3 linked regions of the Homo sapiens genome follow. The protein of the gene in region 1 purifies or fractionates together with the protein of each later gene. This does not show direct contact. Each region holds a gene or a part of one and is shown in the gene's direction. Other genes may lie near its edges.

Region 1 (7,894 bases):
AAATTATGTAGTAAAGAGATTGGAAAAAATACGGCTTCAGAACAATAATGAACCATTTTTGATAAAAGCTAGTTCCTGGAATGGATTGCCTCTCATTTGTATTATATCAAAAGCTGTTTGGTAATTTAAGGGCAGCTGGTGAAGATCTGGTGAAAGATCACAAACAGAAGGACTAAAAGAAAGGACTCAAGGAGAACATTCTCTCAGTCTGAAAAAAATACAGTCGGATTTGTATGCTGAAATGCCCCCAAAACAAATGATTCTGAGAAATGAAACCACTAACAGAAATGAGTTGAGAAAATGAACGTAATGGAGTATCTCAGAGTTAGGAGAGGACGGCTGAAAAGAATAAAAAGGAGATTCAAGTGGAGCTCAGAGAGAGAAGAAAGACAATCCGCAGGGTGGACCCAAGCAAAGGGCTTTTGTCTGAGGTTTATGCAATGAATCGTGGCTTCAGTGAGCTGATTCCTGGTATACATTGCACTACATTTGGCCAGAACAATGATTGCTGCCTTTTTTTTTTTTAACTCACAAAAATCAAAGTATTGTGTAGCTTTTTCCACCTGCCTGAGGCTCCAGGTTATGAAAAGAAAAGGATGAATCATAAGTAAGAATATAGCTTTGATGAAAAAGCCCTCTATCATATGATGACATGATCAGTTTAACAAGACCCATGGTGTCTGTCTGACGGAGACATGACTATTTTTGGACTTTACGTAGCAGAATTCTTGTATCACAAGAATATTCATAGATATGTGTGATACGGGTCCACTTTGAGCATCTGAAAGTTCAGTTCTGGGTGCAGTCTGGTTTTTGTATGTGTTCTTGTAGTAGCAGTTTATTGCATAAGGAATAATTACTCCAGGGTTTTTGAAAAAAAAAAAAATTAAGTAGCAGTAGTAGCTAACACATAGATGCTTACTATGTGCCAGGCACTGTTTGAAGCTCTTGACATGCATTCCCTCTTGTAACTGTTTCAGCAGCCCCATTAGGTAGGTACTGTATGATTCCATTTTGCAGATGAGGAGACCCAGGCTCAGGGAGGTTAAATAACTTGCCCAGCGTCATAGAGCCAGAGAGGAGCAGAGCATGGAGTCTATGTGCCAAACCCCCTTGCACCCACCCCTCTATTTGGCCGTTGTTCATATTTATCCTATTTACTTCAAGTTATCTCATATACAAGAGATAAAACACCACATAGAAAGTTGCTGTGCCTGTTATATTCCCAGTCCTTGCTTCGTCCCCTGTCCCATCCATGTGAGGTGTATCCCCCAGTTCCTTTTTCAAATACATTTACATAGGTGTCATATTTATGGACAATAGAGAATGTTATTTTTCATGCTTCAACATTTGCATAAGTGGTAATATACTCTATATCCATTGTAGAACTCGCTTTTTCCTCCATTTCCACCATTATGATGTGAGTGTTGTCTATGTTGATATGAATCCATTTCTCTGCACCATCCAGTTCTGTAGTTGCTGGCCACATTTGGATGCTGAGCAGTGATATGTGACTGCTGGAATTGAGATGTACGGTGAGTGTAAAACACCCGGTTTCAAAGACAGTAGGAAAAACAGTAAAATATCCTATTAATAATTTTCATATTGATTACTTGTTGAAATTATAATATTTTGGACATATTGGGTTAAATAAAATGTATCATTAAAATTAGCTTCACCTATGTTTTCTCTCTCTTTTTTTTTTTTTTTTTTTTTGAGACAGAGTCTCGCTGTATCGCCCAGGCTGGAGTGCAGTGGTGTGATCTTGGCTCACTGCAACCTCTGCTTCCCAGCTTCAAGCAATTCTCCTGCCTCAGCCTCCCAAGTAGCTGGGACTACAGGTGTGTGCCACCACGCCCAACTAATTTTTGTATTTTTAGTAGAGATGGGGTTTCACTATGTTGGCTAGGCTAACCTCAAGTGATCCACCCGCCTTGGCATCCCAAAGTGCTGAGATTACAGACATAAGCCATGACACCCGACCTGTTTTCTTATTTTTTAATATGGCTGCTAGAAAACTGAACACCGCCTCTGCGGCTTGCATGTTTGGCTTACATTTTTATCAAAGGGCAGTGATGTGGATCATTCCTCTTAGCTGCTGTCTGTCTGGGTTTTGTTAATTGGTGAAGTAAGAAGTCCTAAATCTAATAGCAAGAAGAATTACTATTTACTGCGCACAGATATTTACTCTAAGTGCTTTACAAGTAATGGCCCATTCAGTCTTGCGAGGTGGCATGGCTGCACGAAGTGAGATTAAGCAATTGCCCAGTCACGAAGCTCCAAGGAGGCTGAGTTGAGGCTGAAGTCAGGCGGCTGCCTCCAAAGCCTGACCTTGTAACCACTAACTGGACAAGGCCCCGTGAGAAACGGCATAAATCCACCTAAGAAAGCAATGACCTTAGAGCTTCCCTTGTGGTGGGGTGAAGTTTCCTTCACCACAATACATTGTCCTTACATATCAATGGAGCATCTGTCTTTCCTGACTTTTAACAGAGCAGGTTATAAACAGACACACATTTGTTGTGGCAATTTCAGCTTTAATGAAACCAGCACAGGCAGTATTTTTCTGACATCCGCTTGCAACATTATGAAGTCAGCTTTACTCTTTGCCACTAATTATATTAACTATTTTTAGGGCAAACTGTCAATGCACCATACTGGTTCATGCTTCCTAGGTTTTCAACCTGTTTTCTTTAGCCATATCTATTTATACCTCAAGTGTTTTTTCTTTTAAGAAGCATCCTCATTTTTCTGACAATGATATAGTTGTGGCTCATAATTAAGTTATAAAACACTCTGGGAGGGCAAAGATGACGTGTGATTGCCATGGGGATATTATTGATGAATATTGGATTGGTTTTTGAATTCTGAATTCAAACCCACTTTAACATTTTGAATCATAAAGTTACAGAACTGGTAGGGATCCGAAGTCTCTTTAGTGTTGGTTAAGATCATAGACTTGGCATCAGCAACTGCGTTGACCCTTAGGCTGGGATCTTAACCATTGTAAGTCTTGGTTTTCTCATCTAGAAAATGGGGATCCTGACATCCATCTTCTAGACCTCTGTCTGTGGATTGAGACAGTGACTGTAACTCTGTTCCCTGTATCTACTTTTACTCCATGGTAGTTGTGGTAATTACTATTATTATTACTATTACTATATCATCTTTCCCCAGATGACTCCAAGGGTATACAGTCTCTTCAAGCACATCTGGCCTTTTTCTCCTCCATGCTCAACCAGAACTCTTGAACTTTCCCTTAGTTGGAGAGGTCAATGGTTAGAAGGAAGAAAACTCCGCAACCCACTCCCTCCCTTTGCTCTCTCTCTGGGGCACCGTGGGCAGCTCTTGCTGCAGAGAGCTGTGCTGAGGCCCTTTACTACAGAACCTGTACAGCGCACCCTCCAACAGCACTTCCATCTATGGTCCTACTCCCCAAGGATCTGCCTCCGCACAGCCCTCCCAATGTGCCTGAAAATATCAGCATTGATCCTTTCCCTGGCCACCTTGCTCTTAAGGCTCCTGTTCATCATGCTATGTGGATGTGGACCTCCTCGCCTCTCTGTACTGCCCATGATGGTGGATTACAGCAGAATGGGCTCACCAGTTGACAGCTTTCCCCACTCATGTCTTCTACTCACTAGCTAAGCTTGGGGTGGGTGTCCCCATTGCCCGGAAAATTACTACACAGCCCTCATATCAAACTTGTTTTGAGAAGCATAACCATAAACCCATCTTTGGCCTATGATCCTAGGGAGTCCTCATGCCAACAAGACCTTTTGGGGTCAGCCACGCATGTGAAGTTAGAATGCAGTTTAGGCTGTGCCATGAATCTGAACTAAATATGATTTTAGGGGTGAGGAAACTGGGACCTAGGGGCTTGGGGAACTGGCCCGAAGGTATGGAGAGTACCTGACCTTGTCGTTCTTCCAGGATATGATATTTACTCCTGGCACCAATCCCCTCTACCTTGTACTGAAAGCAAGGACAGCCTGCCTGCAACCACACATACAGGTGGCCATCCAGCAGGTGCATACTAAATGTGTGTTGAGTTGAATTATTAGACTCTTTCTAAGCAACCTTGCAGCATTGAAGGGACCGCAATCCCTTTGCCTCTGCGTCCTTAGGGCTAAACTCGAGGTCTCGATGTCTTGCACTGTGGGCTGGGCCGGGTTTGGTGCCTCACCCAGCAGGTAAGTGCTGTCTACGCCTCCCACAGGTCCAGTGGCTCCTCTCCAGACTTGGGTGCACTGGGCCAGGCTGCACCTTACTAATCTCAAGGCTTCCTGTGTTTGTGGCTTTGGGGCCCTCTTCATCGTGTGAATAGGAATAAGAAGATTGTTATTTCTGGCCGGGTGCAGTGGCTCACGCCTGTAATCCCAGCACTTTGGGAGGCCGAGACGGGCGGATCACCTGAGGTGGGGAGTTCGAGACCAGCCTGATCAACATGGAGAAACCCCGTCTCTACTAAAAATATAAAATTAGCCGGGCGTGGTGGTGCATGCCTGTAATCCCAGCTACTAGGGAGGCTGAGGCAGGAGAATCGCTTGAACCCGGGAGGCGGAGGTTGCGGTGAGCCGAGATCGCGCCACTGCACTCCAGCCTGGGCAACAAGAGCGAAATTCCGTCTCAAAAAAAAAAAAAAGATTGTTATTTCTGAAATAAACCCCTATTTCTCACTATTTAATAATTTAGCAATCTTGACTCACAATCCAAATCCAGGCACCCCAGACCCACCCACGGCCCGTTGCCTAGCAACAGCCTCCCCACCCCCGCCTCCGCGCCTTTTCCCGCCGACTGCCCAGTGCGCACGCTCAGAGCCTTCCTCCACACCCCGCCCCTGCAGGGCGCGCGGTGGTGACGTGTAGAGTGCGCGACGCTTTTGGCGACCCGACCTCTGGCTAACCTACCCCCGGAGCCATGGCCTCTGCTGGGGTGGCAGCCGGGCGACAGGCGGAGGATGTATTGCCGCCAACGTCCGACCAGCCGCTGCCTGACACCAAGCCGCTGCCGCCTCCTCAGCCGCCGCCGGTCCCTGCGCCTCAACCGCAGCAGTCGCCGGCGCCACGGCCTCAGTCACCTGCCCGCGCGAGGGAGGAAGAGAACTACTCCTTTTTACCTTTGGTTCACAACATCATCAAATGGTAAGAACCTAGGAGAGGACCAGGCCCCATACTCCCTCCAGCTTCTCCTCTCAGCCGTTTCAGAGCTGCAAGAGGCCTTGGCGCTCTGGGGCACGCCCCCGTTTCACAGATGGGGAAACTCAGACCCAGAGCGGGAAGAGGCCTTTCCCAAGACCACAGAGACATTCCATGAGTTAAGCAAACGATTTGAGCCTCGAGAGGTGCGATATCCTTAAGAATGAAGCCAGCTTAGAGACTAAATGCAGACTCTTGTCCAGCGGCTCAAATGTTCATCCCAGCGATCTTGAGCAAATTAAATCTCTTTAAGCCTCAGTTTTCTCACCTTTAATGTTGGTAATACTCACTTTAGTTCCTTAGTTCAGCAAACTCAACAGATAAGCATCATCTTCCCTGTGCCAAGTGCTACGGGATGGACGCAGTAAAAGGGGCCAACTTTTCACCCCCAAAGGTTTAGATAGAAGGAAAAAAAGACATGATTGGGAATAACCCACAATTCAAAAAGATTGAGACGGGAGTGGTGGCGATGGGAAACATTAGACTAAGCAGAAACACAGAAGTTGCCTCAGATGATTAGACCCACTTGTACTGACTTTGTTCTAACAGTACCAAAGGAAATAATTGTTGTCATCCTTTTGGCCAGCCTTCAGGGTAGCCTGAGTTTTCAAAGTGACTCTGTAGAGGAAAAACCAAAAACAAAAACACAAAAGTCTCACTGATCCTTATGTTTGCCTAAATTATTATTTTTTTTGAGAGAGGGTCTCGCTCTGTCACCCAGACTGGAGTACAGTGGCGTGATCTCGGCTCACTGCAGCCTCAACCTCCTGGCCTCAAGCCATCCTCCCACCTCATCCTCCCAAGTAACCGGAACCACAGGCATGAGCCATGGCACCCAGCGAATTTTTGTATTTTTTGTAGAGATGGAGTTTCACCATGTTGCCCAGGCTGTAAATTATTTTCATTATGTTACTTCACTGTATATCCACGTGATACTAGGTGTAAACCCCTAGGCTTGTAACTCTTACTCAACCATTAAAGACCAAAACAAAGTAAATTAAAAGAAAATTACGATTCCAGTAACATTCAGGTGAACATGAATGTGCTCTTCACTGTTTTACTGAAATGGAATTGTTACAACGTGAAGGTCTTGACTGTTAGTGGCCCACCCACTTTTGAGTTTAAGCAAATTAGATTCACTTGCTGTGGGATGACCTGATGCTCTTCTGCCACTTTTCAAATAACTACAAAGGCTTTGTTCTCACATTAGACCCTGGCTTCATTTGGTTTCACTTGGTGTTTAAATACTGTTTATAGGGGCCAGGCATGGTGTCTCATGCCTGTAATCCCAGCACTTTGGGAGGCCAAGGCGGGCGGATCACGAGGTCAGAGTTTGAGACCAGCCTCGTCGACATGGCAAAACCCCATCTCTACTAAAAACACAAAAATTAGCCGGGTGTGGTGGCGGCTGCCTGTAATCCCAGCTACTCAGGAGGCTGAGGCAGGAGAATCACTTGAACCCGGGAGGTGGAGGTTGCAGTGAGCCGAGATCATGCCATTGCACTCCAGCCTGGGCAACAAGAGCAAGACTCTGCCTCAAAAAAAAAAAAAAAGTAATGCTTATAGGATAAGGCAGCCTATTCAGTTTTCGTGAGCCTGTGATAATGATCATAGACAGAAATACATATGGAGCCCCTGTAATCCTAGGGCAGTGCTGGATTATAAAGGGTTTATTCTGATTAACCCTAGTTTACTGGTTTTAAGAAAAATGTGGAAAAATGAAAACACAAAATGTACACATTCACAAGGACAGCTCTTGAACTCCCCAAGAGTATATTCTTGAGCCCTGGTAGAGCAGCTGGGTTGGGTTGGCCTTAAAAGATGTAGTAGTAAGTTATACTAGAGAGAACAGGCTTTGAAGTTAGACAGCCCTGTGTTCAAATCTGTGTACTGACATTTTCTTGCCTTCTAATCTTGATATAAATGCCTAACCTTTCTAGGCCATAATCTTCTTATCTCTAATATGTCCATAGTGGACCTCAAAAGAGAGGTTCAGATTATGTCATAGCTCTATAATGTGCTGACTGGGTGACCTTGGCAAGTAGCTTAGCTTCTCTGAGCCTGTTTTTCTCTTGTGAAATGGGAATGCTTATGTCATAGGATTGTTGGGAGATGTACTCAGGAGTGTACCTGTGAAACATAGTGGGTTGATCACATGTGCTTGTCTCTGTTCCATCTAAAAGGACAGAGAAGGGAGTTTAAAAAAAAAAAAAAGCATAAAACCTTCAGACATGGTGGTTCATGCCTGTAATCCCAACACTTTAGGAGGCTGAGGCGAGCCGGTCGCTTGAGCCTGGGAGTTCAAGACCAGCCTGGGCAACATGGCAAAACCCCGTCCCTACAAAAAATACAAAAAAAATTAGCCAGGCATGGTGGTGTGTGCCTGCAGTCCTGGCTACTTGGGAGGCTGAAGTGGGAGGATCACTTGAACCCAGATCATGCCACTGCATTCTAGCATGGGTGACAGAATGAGACCCTGTGTCAAAAATAAAAAGCATAAAACCAAAAAGAATAGGACAGGAGATGATTGCCACAAAGTGGATGACCAGGGCTAATTCATCTACCAACTCCTAAGCACCTGGTTTGTTAACCATGGCCTATCCCCAGATCTCAGGAACTCTAGTGCAAGGACCCCCTGGAAATAGGGGTGAAGGTGGGTCTAAGAACAGGAAGATTACTTGGAAGTCTGTTTAAGA
Region 2 (7,392 bases), on another chromosome or scaffold:
ATAACTTACTGCACTGAATGGATATGTATACATTTGGTTATTTTATTTTATTTATTTATTTTTGAGACAGAGGCTCACTCCATCGCCCAGGTTAGAGTTTAGAGTGCAGTGGCAGGAGCTTGGCTCACTGCAACCTCCACCTCCCAGGTTCAAGCAATCTCCTGCCTCGGCTTTCCAAACAGCTGGGATTATAGGCACGCATCACCATGCCCGCCTAATTTCTGTATTTTTAGTAGAGATGGGGTTTCACCATGTTGGCCAGGCTGGTCTTGAACTCCTGACCTCAAATTATCCACTCACCTTGTCCTCCCAGTTCTAGGATTCTAGGATTGCAGGCATGAGCCACAGCACCCGGCCAACATTTGGTTATTTTAAACAAAGGAAAAAAGAAAATGCAAACAGTATGGTAAAAAGTAATCCCACTCCAACTCCCAGTCCCCCTAGTTCCCCTCCTTAGAGGCAACTAATGTTACTACTAGTTTCTTGTTACCCTTCCTGAGGTATCTCAATAAATAATCTATTTTTGAGATTATTCCATATTAGTGCAAATAGCACTAACTCATTATTTTTAATGGCTGCATGGGAGTAAATTATATTGTTAACTATTCCCCAAATGATGGACATGTTTCTAGTTTGTACCCTACAAACAATGCTATAGTTCATATCCCTGCACTGCATGTCTTTATACAATCGTACAAGTATCTCTGTTGGATAAACTTCTAGAAGTCGAACAGCTGGGTCAAAGGCTGTGTGCATTATAGATTTTGATGCTAGTTGAACGGACATCCAAAGCTATGGTGTTAATTTATATTCCCACCAGCAGTGTATGAGAGTCCTACTTCTCTCTACATTTGTCTAAGCTTTTAAAATACTGTCAATACTTCTTGTGGCTTTAATTTCTGCTTTTTCTTATGATGAGTGTGTTAGTCGGCTCCAGCTGCTATAACAAATTACCATAGACTGGGTGGCTTTAAACAACAGACATTTACTTCACACAGTTCTGGAGGCTGGGAAGTCCACGATCAGGTGCTGGCCATTTCAGTTCCTGGTAAGGACCCTCTTCTTGGTTATGTCTTCACACAGTAGAGAGAGAGAAGCAAACTCCCTTGTGTCTCTTCCTACAACGGCACTAATTCCATCACGAGGGCTCCACTCTTATGCTAATTACCTCCCAAGGGCTCCACCTTCAAATATCTTTACAGTGGTGAGTAGAGTTTCAACATATGAAGTTTGGGGAGGACACAAACATTCAGCCAATAACAACGAGTGAGGTTGAGTAACATTTTATATACAATCAAGTGTCAATGATGGGGATGTGTTCTGAGAAATGTAACACTGGTGATTTCCTCATTGTGCAAACATCATAAAGTGCACTTGCACAAACCTAGATGAGATAGTCTACTGCACAGCTAGGCTAAATGGTATAGCCTATTGCTCCTAGGCTACAAACCTGTATGGCATGTTACTGTACTGAATACTGTAGGCAGTTGTAATATAATGGTGTTTGTGTATCTAAACACATCTAAGCTTAGAAAAAGTACAGTACAAATATGGTATTATAATCTTATGGGACCACTGTCATATATGTGGTCCACTGTTGTCCAAAATGTAGTACATGACTGCATTTAAAAGCTGGTCTTCTCTATTCTGTAAACTGTCCAAGTCCTTTATTCATGTTTCTATTAGGTTTTGCTCTGAAAGATTTATCATTAGTATTTGATTTTTCGAGAGAGGGTCTCCGTCACACAGGCTGAAGTGCAGTGGCAAGATCATGGCTCACTGTAGCCTCAAATTCCTAGGCTCAATCGATCCTCCTATCTCAGCCTCCCAGGTAGCTGGGACTACAGGTGAGCACCTGGCTAATTCTTTTGTAGAGATGGGAGTTTGTCATGTTGCCTTGGCTGGTCTTGAATTCCTGGACTCAAGCGATCCGCTGGCCTTGGCCTCCCAAAGTGCTGGGACTACAGGTGTGAGCCACTGCACCTGGCCTATTACTATTTCTACTTAAACCTAAACATGCTGAAGAATGACAATTTGGTCACCAGGTGAGTAGGATAGAACTACCTTCACCTCTGATGTAAATATATGGAATCTGGATATGATGGGCATTATACCCTCGAATTGCTCAGGCCTAAGTAACACCGTGTATGTTGACAGAGTGGTTTTTTTTTTTTTTTTTTACTTTTACCAACAGTATCTTTATTTATTTATTTATTTATTTTTTTGATGGAGTCTCACTCTGTCGCCCAGGCTGGTGTGTAGTGGTGCAATCTCTGCTCACTGCAACCTCTGCTTCCTGGGTTCAAACGATTCTCTTGTCTCAGCCTCCCAAGCAGCTGGGACTACGGGCACACGCCACCACACCCGGCTAATTTTTGTATTTTTAGTATTTTTAGTAGAGACAGGGTTTCATCATGTTGGCCAGGCTGGTCTCGAGCTCCTCACCTCAGTTGGTCTGCCCGCCTTGGCCTTCCAAAGTGCACGGATTACAAGCGTGAGCGACTGCATCCGCTCATCAACAGTATCTTAATAGAAATTCTCAATATTGGCCTGAGGTCATTGGGTCAGCAATCAGGATCAATTTTTGAGATTAGGAAATGAGGCTCAAAGAGTTAAACTATGTTGGTCAAAATAATGCAATTAGAGGGATGGCAAAGCCAGCCAGAGGCATCTTTCTAAGGAGCCTCCTGAATTCATGCTCGGGCTCTGGAGTCAGAAGGACCTGAGTTTGAGCCATGTACTAACTGAGAGATTGGAGATGTCACTGCACACCTCTGAGTTTTACCTAATTACAGCCTAAGAATAATAACAGTATCTACTTTAGGTGGTTGTTCTGCGGATTATGTGAAATAATGTAGGTAACGACATTCATTGTAACAATATGTTGCATGATAATACACATTATAACATGTTGCTCATGAGTTTTGCTTTAGCAGTATTTGTGGTAGTTCCAAAACTCAGTTCACGTGTCTTAAGACTTCTCTTATTATACACTCTCATCTCTTCCCTGCTTTCTACTCTTCCTTTTTTTTTTTTTTTTTTTTTTTGAGACAGGGCCTCTCTCTGTCACTCAGGCTGGAGTACGGTGATGCGACCTCGGCTCACTGGGCTCACTGCAGCCTCTGCCTCCAGGGCTCAAGTTATCCTCCCACCTCAGCCTTTCGAGTAGCTAGGGCTACAGGCACATGCCACACTACGCCTGGCTAATTTTTGTATTTTTGTATTTTATTTTTTTTGTCATGACGGGGGTTCTTGCTACATTGCTCAGGCTGGTCTTAAACCTCGGCTAGGATTACCGGCGTGAGCCACTGTGCCAGCCATCCACTCTTCCTCTTTTAGCTTAATCTACCTGAAACAGCTGATTGTTCCATGTTTGGAGGCGTATTAGTGAAGACATTGTTTTCTCCTCCCCCTTTTCGGGGATCCATTTCTTGAGGACTGGGAGAGCTTCTCTTCATAGCAGCACTCCTCCGGACTCCCAGGCCATATACACTCAGGAAATGTTGGTTATCCAATGAATGACGCCAGGAAGAAGGGTCTGCTCCCAACACGGCCTTAGCACAGTGCCTGGAAGTTATAACAGATTCTGGCACACAGCAGGAGCTCAGGAAACATTTATGTAATGAATGAATGAATGAATGAATGAGTGCACACAGTAACTAGGAGTAAGGGCTCAATAAACATTTCTGTATTAAACGCACAGTGTCTGGAACACAGTAAGCGCTCCGTCTATGGCAGCCGTGAATATCCCTGGGCGAAGCCTGTGAAACCTTGTCCAAGAGCTTGGCTTCACTGTGCGCGGGTTCGAATCTGGACTCCTCTTCCCAAGTGTGCGACCTCGGGCAAGTGATTTAATCCCTTTGTGCTTTAGTTTTCTCCTCTGCAAAAGGCGGACGGCGGCGCGAGCCTCTGAGGACACATTCCCCAGGGCACTCGGACCCGCTGCCTGGCCCACATCGCGGCCGCCGCGCCACGCCAGCCGGCCTGGGCTGCGAGGGCACAGGCCGGGGGTCCCGCGCCCTCCTCCGCGGCCACCACGGGCGCGCCCGGGACCCACGGTCCCGCCCCGCCACGATCAGTGCACCGCGAGGGGGCGGGGCGGCCACGAGGGGCAGCCCACGGCAGCCACGGGCCGGCAGTCCGCCGCCCGCCGGGGAGCCCGGCCGCCCGCACTTCTTTCTCTCCCTCTCTGCCTCCCTCCCTCCCTCTTCCCGGCCGGAGGACCCGGCCGCGCTCAGCTCAGCAGCGCCTCCCGCGAGCCGCCGCCGCCGCCGCCACTCCGGACCCCTCCCCCGCCCGCCCCTCGCTCCCCCCGCGCGGCCGGCGCCCGTCACGTGACCAAGCGCCAGCCAATGGCGGGCCGAGCCGCGGTCGGCGGCCGCCATTGCTGTCAGAGCAAGCGAGCCCGGGGAGGGAGGAGAAGCGAGGCTGACTGGGGAGGAGGGGGGGGTGGGGGAGGAAGAGGAAGGAGGGGACGTCGCTCGGCTGCCGGGGTCGCCCGCTGGCTTCGTCCGCACCCCCCCCTTCGCGAGTTCGCGCTCCGCGGCGGCGGCGGCTCCGAGGCGGCGGCGGCGGCTCCGGGGCTCGCCTCCCCTCGCGCGCCGGCGGGGGCCGAGGGGGAGTCGGTGGCTGGAGATAAACAAGGCGGCGGCAGCGGCAGCAGCGGCGGCGGCGGCGGCTGAGGAGCAGGGAAGGCGGAGGCGGTGGCCGGCCCGCAGCGCCGGCCCGGGGCGCGCGCCCCCCCCGCCAGCCCGGGCCCGCTGCCCCCGGCGCGGCGTCGCCGCGGCGCCTCCCGCCTGCCCGCCGGCCCTCGCGCCCTCCCCCGGCGGCGGCGGCGGCCCGGCCGCCCCGCGCTCCCCGGCGAGGCGCCGCCGCCCGGCCCGGCCTCGCCTCGGACGCCTCGCTCCGACATGCCCCGCTCTGGCGGCCGGGCTCGCGGAGGATCATGACTGCGGCAGCGAACTGGGTGGCGAACGGGGCGAGCCTGGAGGATTGTCACTCCAACCTCTTTTCGCTGGTGAGTAGCCGGGCTGCGGGGAGGGGGCTGTGCCGGGGAAGGGGGGGGGTCCCCGACCTCCGCCGCCGACCAACTTTCTCCTCCCGCCGCCGGGACTTCGCCCCTCCCTCGCGTCTCCCCGCCGTTCGCCTCTCGCCGATTCTCCCCCTTTTGGATCGTCTCTCTCTCGCCTTGGATCCCATCCAGTGTTTATTTGGCTCTTTAAAAATCATTTGTGAGCGCGGCGCTCGGCGTGGAATTTGCATGTGGAAGTCTCGGAGCTGCGGATTCTGGGTCGCACTTCGAACGCCCACCCTCTGTTGCAATCGCACTCCCCTTCTCCTCCCCTTTCCCCCCTTTTTTTCCCCCCGTAAATGTGGAAGGCTTTGCCTTGTGCTGCCGCGCCTCCGATCGGCAACCTCTTCCCCCGTTGTTGGATCAGCTGCCTGCCCGCCCGCCTGCCTTTTGAATTTTTTTAAATTCCATAATGACACCTGCAATTTCGCCCTAAAATAGTTGATTGAATGCGATTGTGTCAGGAAAGGACTCTTGCACCCGAAGCTCCCGCGATTGTAAACATCGACAGCCGCCTGCCTCTCGGGGCTTACTATGCTGGAGAGCCGTAAAGCCATTGCACCGAGCCGACGGAAGGTGGAGAAAGCTTTTTCTTCTTTCTCTCCTCCTGTGTCTTTTAAAAACTGTTTTTCTCTATCCTAACAACGAATCCGCACACACACACACACACACACACACACACACACACACACACACAAAAGCAACAAGCTGGTCGGTTTGATAACATCGCTTTTATCTGCCTTCGCCTCTCTCGCGCTCTCTCTTTCTGATAATTGACAACTTTTCCTTCGGATTTGAATCGCCTGCCTTAATCTTGAAGCAGTTAGGGTGTCAATTGTTCTCGTGGAAGCCTGGCACCCGCCGACGGTGTCTAGATTCATCGAAATTAAAAATGTATAGGGCTCCAGCAACTCTTTTCCTGGCGGTGTCAGTGACATTTGGTGGTAAATGCCATCTTTGCTTTTTATTGGGTCGTATTACCTACCTCTGAAAACATTCACGTTGTTAAACCTGGCGTTTAGGCTAATAATTGCAGTGCGTGGTCTTTAAATATGTGCTTTGTGCATGAGTTACTGTATGTATAGCTATGTGCCCAGGAGAGTACGAATTTGTTTAAATATTGAGCAAAGATTTGTAAACAGATGTAAGGCAATTACGTTTCAAGCGTAGAATATAATTGGAAAATTGGCTGAACGGTTTATTTAATTTAGCCTTAAAAACACCCAACTTGTTTTAAGTTGTGTACCCTGTTTTTTTTGGGGGGGAGGTGAGTCCCTTTTGGAGAGCATGCATTTTGGAAATTATTTTCTGTAACCCCCGCTGTAGATAGAAGCATTATTTCCCTCTTAATCCTTGTTTACACTGGATAAATAATTTAGTGTTCAAATTGTAATTAGTTACATTTAATTATGGGTGGCATAGATGCCTTTTTGCTATGAGACTAATGGAGAAATGCAAATTCTCGCCAACTTTTCAAATGAAAGTGTTACTTTATTAAATGTGTTACAATGCAGACCAAAAAATCAACACGTGATTTTTACCTACAAAGACATAGTATCATTGCTCCCACTCTAGTAAAATCAGGTAAATTTTTTTAAATGAAATATTTTAATCCAGATATTTAATCTTAAAATTCATTTATAAGTTGGAATTCTTTCTCTTAGTATTGTGATAATTTTCCCTTGATTTTTTGGTATGTGGGAGTAAAACCCCCTTTTGCCTCAACTTTTTCCCTCCTCAGTCTTATCATTTAGTATCAGTCAGGTTCAGGGACTTCCATAGATTAGCAAACATATTGATCAAGGGGTATTTAAAATGGTTTTTGTGTGGTTACTGGTGACCACATTGACACTTACAGGTAATTAAAATAACCAAGTAGAGCGATCTCCCAAATTATCATATATTATGCTGACTGGTAATGGCTGTGTATATACGGATTCTGTAGACAAATGAAAGTATATGTATAGCCAGTCTTTAGGGTATATCATTTCTTTTATCTTTTTTTTTTTTTTTTAAAGCTTAAGTAAGGATGATAACGTTACAGAGATAAAATGCTTGAGATTCTTTTGGAGAAGCAATTTTGTAGGAGAGGATTCTGTACTTTGATTTTGAATGACTAAAGGTTTGTGTTTGAGATATTTCTCCCCTAAACCTCTTTAAACCAAGGGATTGATTTTTGAATATGCTTTTTTAAAAAGAATTATTTTTTAAGTAGCAACTTTGAACTAGAGAACCATAGAAATGCTTAGTTGATTTTTTTTTTTAAAGGAACGTAGAATGTCTTCATTCTCTTGTACGTGGAGTGTGGATAAGGTGCTATT
Region 3 (7,021 bases), on another chromosome or scaffold:
TAAAATACTCAACAAATTTCTCACACCACCATTAAAGCTGCTTACCAAGAACTTCCCCAGCATTTTGACTTCCTTGTTTGATAGCTGAATTGTGAGCAGGTGATAGAAGAGCCTTTCTAGTTGAACATACAGATAATTTGCTGAATACATTCCATTTAATGAAGGGGTTACATCTGTTACGAAGCTACTAAGAAGGAGCAAAAGCATAGGGAAAAAAATCTGATCAGAACGCATCAAACTCACATATGCCCCATCTACTACAAACAGATTGTAGTGCTGTGCTGGTTTATTCCGTTGTGCAGAACTGCAAGCTGAGTCACTAAACCAAAGAGAGGAAATAATAGGTTAGTAAACATTGTAATCCCAGGAACTAAGTTTAATTCACTTTTGAGTGTTTTGTTTTTTATTTTTGTTTGTCTGATTTACTTTGGGGAAAAGGCTAAAAAAAGGGATATCAATCTCTAATTCAGTGCCACTAAAGTAGTCCTAAAAGTCTTACTGAAGTATGGACTTTTAAGCTCAGGTGTTTGTCCTCAAATAGCTGCATGGCCACTAAATGTGAGGCATTCTGCTAAGTGGGAAATACACATTAAAATAGAGAAAATGAGAATTTCTTCCCTTTTATCAAAACAAGAAGCTTGCTATTACTACACTTGTTGATTCAAATATTATTGAGCAAAGTCTTTTCTCCTCCCAAATTTGGTCTGTATAGCATGCCAATTCCTACTATTTCCTTTGCCTGGTTAGCTCAGTAGCTACCTATAAGCATCACACATTTTGAGAAGTAGATGAAACTTATATGTTTTTAATTTGGAAAGCCATTTTATAAGGAGTTTGGCAGGCAGGTGAACACTAAAGAGACTTTCCATGAATTGGGCACAATCTAAAAAAAAAAAAAAAACAAGGTAGGAAAAAGAAACTTATTTACAATAATTAGAAATTTATCTGCAATAATAGCCTGATCAGCTGACTCAGAGTTAATGATTAATGTATGGGTCAGGATTTTGAAGAAAGGAAGAATGGTAAAATTGACAAAGGTGAGAGAGAATAGCAGTTATAAAGACAGAAGAGTTACTAGATGGGAGGGAGTTAAGCAAGGTTCAATAAGTTATTTTTCCTGTTGACTGGACTTTTTCTTTAAAAAGCAGTGTAGCTTTGCATACATTTTTTCTGTGAAATAGGGTCTTGCTATGTTGTCAAGGCTGGATTCAAACTCCTGGGCTCAAGCGATCCTCCCGCCTCAGCCTCCTGAGTAGCTGGGACTACAGGCATATGCCAGTATGCTCAGCTAAGAGCAGTGTAGCTTTAATTATAGCTAAACTACTTACCTTTCATCTTCCTTTACATATTTTATTTTCTTCTTTGGAATTTTTAATAACTAACCAGATGAATTGTTACAGTGTTTATTGGGTGTGCTGTAAGTAGAATTTTAAACATGCAAAGCCATCCATCATCCCTTTTTGTGATCCTACTTAGCTGCCTATGTGGCCATTGATTATCAAAGGTTAGATTTATAGGGTATACCCATATAAAAAGAATAATCACAAAATAATTAATTTTCCCATATACCTTTCGATGACAAAAACAAAATAGGTTGGCCTATGTTTCTTGATGAGACTTTTCCATATGATGGTATTGGCTAGGCTTGGTTCTCTGATATGTAAATACGATGTCATTTTTTAAAATCACTTGCTGCAGTCAGTGTGAATCTTTAAGTAAATAGGTGATTAACTTGTTACTTTGAAATGTAAATATGTGAAATTTTAGATTAAATTAAATATCTCTATTCCAGTTTTGGAATTTAGGAATTCTCATTTTAGGTTTTTTCTTATTTCCTGTTTAAGTGACAGTTATTAACATATCTGAACAATCAGCTTTGATAAAATAGTAATTTTGATTTGTTCCCTTTGGTTATTTATATTTGTCACAGGTATTGGTTAAGTCAGTCAAAAACCATGTGTTGAGGGTCTGCTATATGCACACCATTGTACTTAGTTTAGGATTTGTTAAGAGTAGAAATGAAATATTTTCAGCTTTAAATTCTAAATTGGCAAATAGATCTTACCTCTACTAATAGTTCTTTTGAGTACAAATTTAATTTGAATGAAAGTAAATCTGTATCTTGTGAATGAAAGGAATTTACTTTGTTGTGTACAGAGAAACCCATTTGCCTGGCTTTTGTCAATAATTCATTTGAATTTATAACCCTTTTTTTTTTTTTTTTTTTTTGAGACGGAGTCTTGCTCTGTCGCCCAGGCAAGAGTGCAGTGGCGCGATCTCGGCTCACTGCAGCCTCTGCCTCCCGGGTTCAAGCAATTCTCCTGCCTCAGCCTCCTGAGTAGCTGGGACTATAGCCGCGTGCCGCCATGCCCAGCTAATTTTTGTATTTTTAGTAGAGACAGGATTTAACTATGTTGGCCAGGCTGGTCTTGATTTCCTGACCTCGTGATCCGTCCTCCTCAGCCTCCCAACATGCTGGGATTATAGGCATGAGCCACCACACCCGGCCGAATTTATAATCCATGTTAACAGTAATATTTTGCTTTTGCTTCCTGTCCTTTGCATTAAATACTTAAATTTGCAAAATCTGATACTGCTTATGGCATCAAGAACCACTTTGGAAAAAAAACTTTGTTAAAGTAGAAATGCTGTTAATTCTTAGGCGTTTTGAGGTCGGACATTGTCTCTTGGTGGAATACCACCTTACTGATTAGTGCTAACATGAGAGGGTAATTATTAGACCTTGCAAATTAGCAAGTAAATAAAATAAAAAATATTTTATCACAAAAATTTACACTGATTATGTTAGGCGAGTGCCCAATTTCAAATACTGTTTGGGTTTTCCGTTTGTTTTTGTTTAGTTTTCTTTGGTTGTAGTTCCCATGCTCCATATGCAGCTTTACTGTAGTTCACAGAAAAGGTATCACCTGGACATTGAAAACTCACCAAAATCCAGCCAGTACATTTAATTGGGCTTAGAGTGAAACCATTTGGGTGGTATGGAGGTATACAGAATGAAAAATCGGGGTGGAGGGCATGGGAATATATACTTATAATAATGTTTCATGGTATTTAGTAATTATAATTGCTTAGGAATTAATATGAGTTATTAGGGAAAGAAAGAAAAAAACACTCCCCAAGAAAATAAAATTGCATTTTCTTTTGGAAAGAACCACTTTATTTTGCACCTTTCTTTTTCTTTTTTCCTTGCCTATTTTTCTTTCTTTTTTTTTTTCTTTTTGTTTTAAAGATATTTGGGCTATAGGGTGTATATTTGCAGAACTACTAACGTCAGAACCAATATTTCACTGTCGACAAGAGGACATCAAAACTAGTAATCCTTATCACCATGACCAGCTGGACAGAATATTCAATGTAATGGGATTTCCTGCAGGTACACATTATTCGTTTTTGTTTTTGTTTTTAAATCACTGTTGTTTGAACTTAGATGTCTTCGTTGGAGAGGTATATATTTTTAGCTGATGGAAGCTACTTTTACTTGAGTCTTTGTTTTTTGACTTGCATTTATCAAAGATCCGTAGAAACAGCAAAATTTGTAGAGTTTACATATTGGCATGGAAATATTTATGGGTTTCCTGAATTTCAGGACTGTATTTTTGTTTCATCTTGTTTTACTTTTTTGTTTTGTTATTTGGTATTTGAAATGATAAAATATGTTCAATATCTGTATTAAAAAGGTACCTTTAGCTCTTACCAGTAGAAACTATAAATGAATTCAGTAGTAGGAATTTTTTTCTGGCAGCACATATAATACTGCCACTATTTGGCATTCAAATATAAATTTTGAACCTTATTTCTATTTAGGGCACTATACAGAATCACATTATATTGAATAATAGCATTTAAGTCTTCTCTTAGAACAGTCACAATGTGGGTGAGAGTCATAGTACCCTATGGTGAGTTAGCCTGCTGTTTTGCAACAGAGAGATGGTTTACATGTATCCTATCCCTGGTATTAGATCTCTCCAACTGTATCTCAATCCCTAGTTATATTACAGAACGGTAATCACCAAAAACTGCTCAGAGGTCCAGAATAATGAGAATTTGTTTAAAACACCTAAATTTTGGCTAGTCAAGTACTTAGTAGAAAGTGTTTCTTATTAGGAATATTTCTCAGGTCACTATAAACTCAAGACTAATAGAGATAATACCTGGGACTTTTAATTCTACATTCCCTTGTAAGGGTGTTAATTATCAGTAAATGCAGAATAACTACACAGATACTGCCTTTCTCCAAAATTGGTCACCAGTGTGGAGAAGACTTCTGTTGTGATGGGAATTTTATTTATTCAGTAAATATTTATTGAGTACCTGCCATGTGCCAGGCACTGTCTTAAGTAAAAAGTTATTGATGATGTAACAGACATGATTTTTGCCCCCTTGGAGTTTGCATTGTACTGCTATATGTAGAATGTTTAAAAAGTAGGTATGGTTTTGAGTAGAGACAGAAGAATTCTGTTTTCTTCCTGCTTCTGAATGTGTCCACCATTTCTGAGCCCACGGGAAAGGCATAGCTTCTGTGAGGGAGTAGATGTGGTGAAGATGTCTATCAGTGACTCTTAATATGTGGTTCAGAGGTTAGGGTGGTTTATAAGGAAGCTTGGAAAGCAGGCAGCAGAGGTTAGATTTGATAGCTAAAGAATGAGAATCCATCAGTTCTTGAGTACTAGAGACATGCTTTATGTTGCATTTTAGAAAGATTTAGTAAGATGGTGGTAGGTAAAAATCTGTTAAAAAGAGCTAACTGAAATCAGAAACCAGCTGTAGCAGTGCTGCAGACAGAAAGTAGAGTGAAGATAAGGATGGAGAAAAAAGGGCAGATGGAAATGTTTTATAGGAAGTGTATAAGCAAGGGAAAACTAAAGATTATCTTAAAATTTCTAGCATGAGAAATTGATAAAACACAGAAATTGGAGCAAGGAAAATAGTTAAGGAGAAAATTCCATTTAGGAGTGTAGTGTATGTTTAGTTTACAATATGTGATGTCTTTGGAGGATAGTTACCAAATATTTTTACAAGTAAGTTCAAAGAAAAGCAAGCCTCTAAAGGCCATTTAAAAGCTAAAGGTTTTGCGAGGCCGCGGTGGGCGGATCACCTGAGGTTGGGAGTTTGAGACCAGCCTGAACAACATGGAGAAACCCCGTCTCTACCAAAAATACAAAATTAGCTGGGCATGGTGGCTACATGCCTGTAATGTATTACAGGCATGGGATTACATGCCTGTAATCCCAGCTACTCTGGAGGCTGAGGCAGGGGAATCACTTGAACCTGGGAGGCAGAGGTTGGGGTGAGCCGAGATCGCACCATTGCACTCCGGCCTGGGCTGTTAACAAGAGCGAAACTCCGTCTCAAAAAAAAAAAAAAAAGAGCTAAAGGTGCTGTTAAGCTGCCTGTGACAGTCCTTTGCACCTAGTAGACTCTCAGGAAAACCCATTGGCAGATATTGGAGAGAACACATTATGTAGCATGTATTGTTTGAGCAACTTGGATGCCAGCAAAAGTAGCTGAAACGTTTTGTACTTAACGTATTTAGGAGCTGGGGTTGTTTTGGGTAATGTTAACCAGACTAGCCAAGGTACCAGCCCACTTATTAATATACTAATTATATCCTACCCTATTGTGCAAATAGTTATTACCCCTTCTTCCATTGATTGCTTATGTAAAGAAATATATTTAACAAGGTGAAAGGAGGGCTGTATCATAAAAAGAAGTATAGTTTAAAGCCACTGAGGGGAAGATCTTAGATTTCTCATTGAAGAAATTGATTGCTGACTTAACCAAGAAATTTGGTAGAAAAGGGGAAATAAGCAGTTTTACTAATAGAAAGAGGACATTTAATAAGATAAATAGAAATATGTATAACTTATTCTTCTCTAGTGACAGAAATTGAGGCAGCTTATAGTAAAACATACAGAAAGTTTGCAGTTTAAAATTTAAAATATAAACAGATATATAAAGTTATATAAGGGATAAGGAATTATGTTTACACTTCAAGATATTTACTGTTGCTGAACATTTATTTGAAGACAGCTTTTTTGTGTGGAGGTTGAACGGATAGGAAATGTAATGAACGTGGTAATAACCTTTTTAAAAATTCTCAAGAATAGGAACTTAGGCAACATAAAAATTTATCAATGTATTTCACAGATAAAGATTGGGAAGATATAAAAAAGATGCCTGAACATTCAACATTAATGAAAGATTTCAGAAGAAATACGTAAGTTGGAAAAAAAGAGACTCCTTGTTGATTTTTGCTTTACCAGAATACTCAGTGTAAGACTGAATATTCAACATAATAAAATACTCAATATAAGATTACTCTAATAAATAATTTTACTTATTTACTCTAATAAATATTTTTCATGATGACAGTCTTTATTTCTTAAGATGCTTAAATGATTATATACAAAAGTGACTAATATTAGCAGCTGATTTGGATATAAAACAAATTCATGTCTTTCCATATTGACTACTTTTTGGAAGCTAGACATTAGTGAGAAGTATCACAGCTGAATAAATAAGAATCTAAATAAATAAACTTTGGTAATAGCCACTTGCTCACCAATCTAGGTTACAGTAATTTTAAGCAGGTTTTAACAGAGAAGAATGGATATTTCACCTGTTTACAATGCAAAGCCAGGGATTGGGAGAGTTTAGTTTGTATACCTATGACAAAAGTATTTTACACTTATTGGTAAGGCTGAATTAAACTTTTGACCCAGATGTTATTTAAAATAATTGTTAAAATATAATTCATGTGAAAAAAAAAGCTGTTTAGTGTCTGTTATTCATGAAATTGTCTTACATTTAATCATCGGTATCCTTTCAAAAGTGACCATTGTGGATATTGAATGAAATAGAAAACTGATTTAATTCTACTCATTTTATGCTCATAGTGTTTTCAATATATATTTTATATCGGTTATGATCAAAATAATTCTCATCAGAAGGACTTTAGCCAATGTACAATTAACCTCAAGTCTAATATAGCTATTTCATA

What was found. The genes of interacting proteins can lie anywhere in the genome.
Region 2: the proteins of MED9 (region 1) and MED13L purify together in Homo sapiens (affinity purification with mass spectrometry; 5 studies listed by BioGRID and IntAct, with this or other methods). This does not show direct contact.
Region 3: the proteins of MED9 (region 1) and CDK8 purify together in Homo sapiens (affinity purification with mass spectrometry; 12 studies listed by BioGRID and IntAct, with this or other methods). This does not show direct contact.

Annotation. Positions count from the first base shown.
Region 1 is NC_000017.11:17,472,122-17,480,015, forward strand, and holds the start of MED9 (mediator of RNA polymerase II transcription subunit 9), read left to right. Parts: upstream 1-4,878; 5' UTR 4,879-4,920; coding exon 4,921-5,144; intron 5,145-7,894.
Region 2 is NC_000012.12:116,274,685-116,282,076, reverse strand, and holds the start of MED13L (mediator of RNA polymerase II transcription subunit 13-like), read left to right. Parts: upstream 1-4,383; 5' UTR 4,384-4,945; coding exon 4,946-5,017; intron 5,018-5,384; exon of another isoform or gene 5,385-5,605; coding exon of another isoform or gene 5,606-5,647; intron 5,648-7,392. UniProt on the Homo sapiens protein: Component of the Mediator complex, a coactivator involved in the regulated transcription of nearly all RNA polymerase II-dependent genes.
Region 3 is NC_000013.11:26,390,117-26,397,137, forward strand, and holds part of CDK8 (cyclin-dependent kinase 8), read left to right. Parts: intron 1-3,250; coding exon 3,251-3,394; intron 3,395-6,168; coding exon 6,169-6,238; intron 6,239-7,021.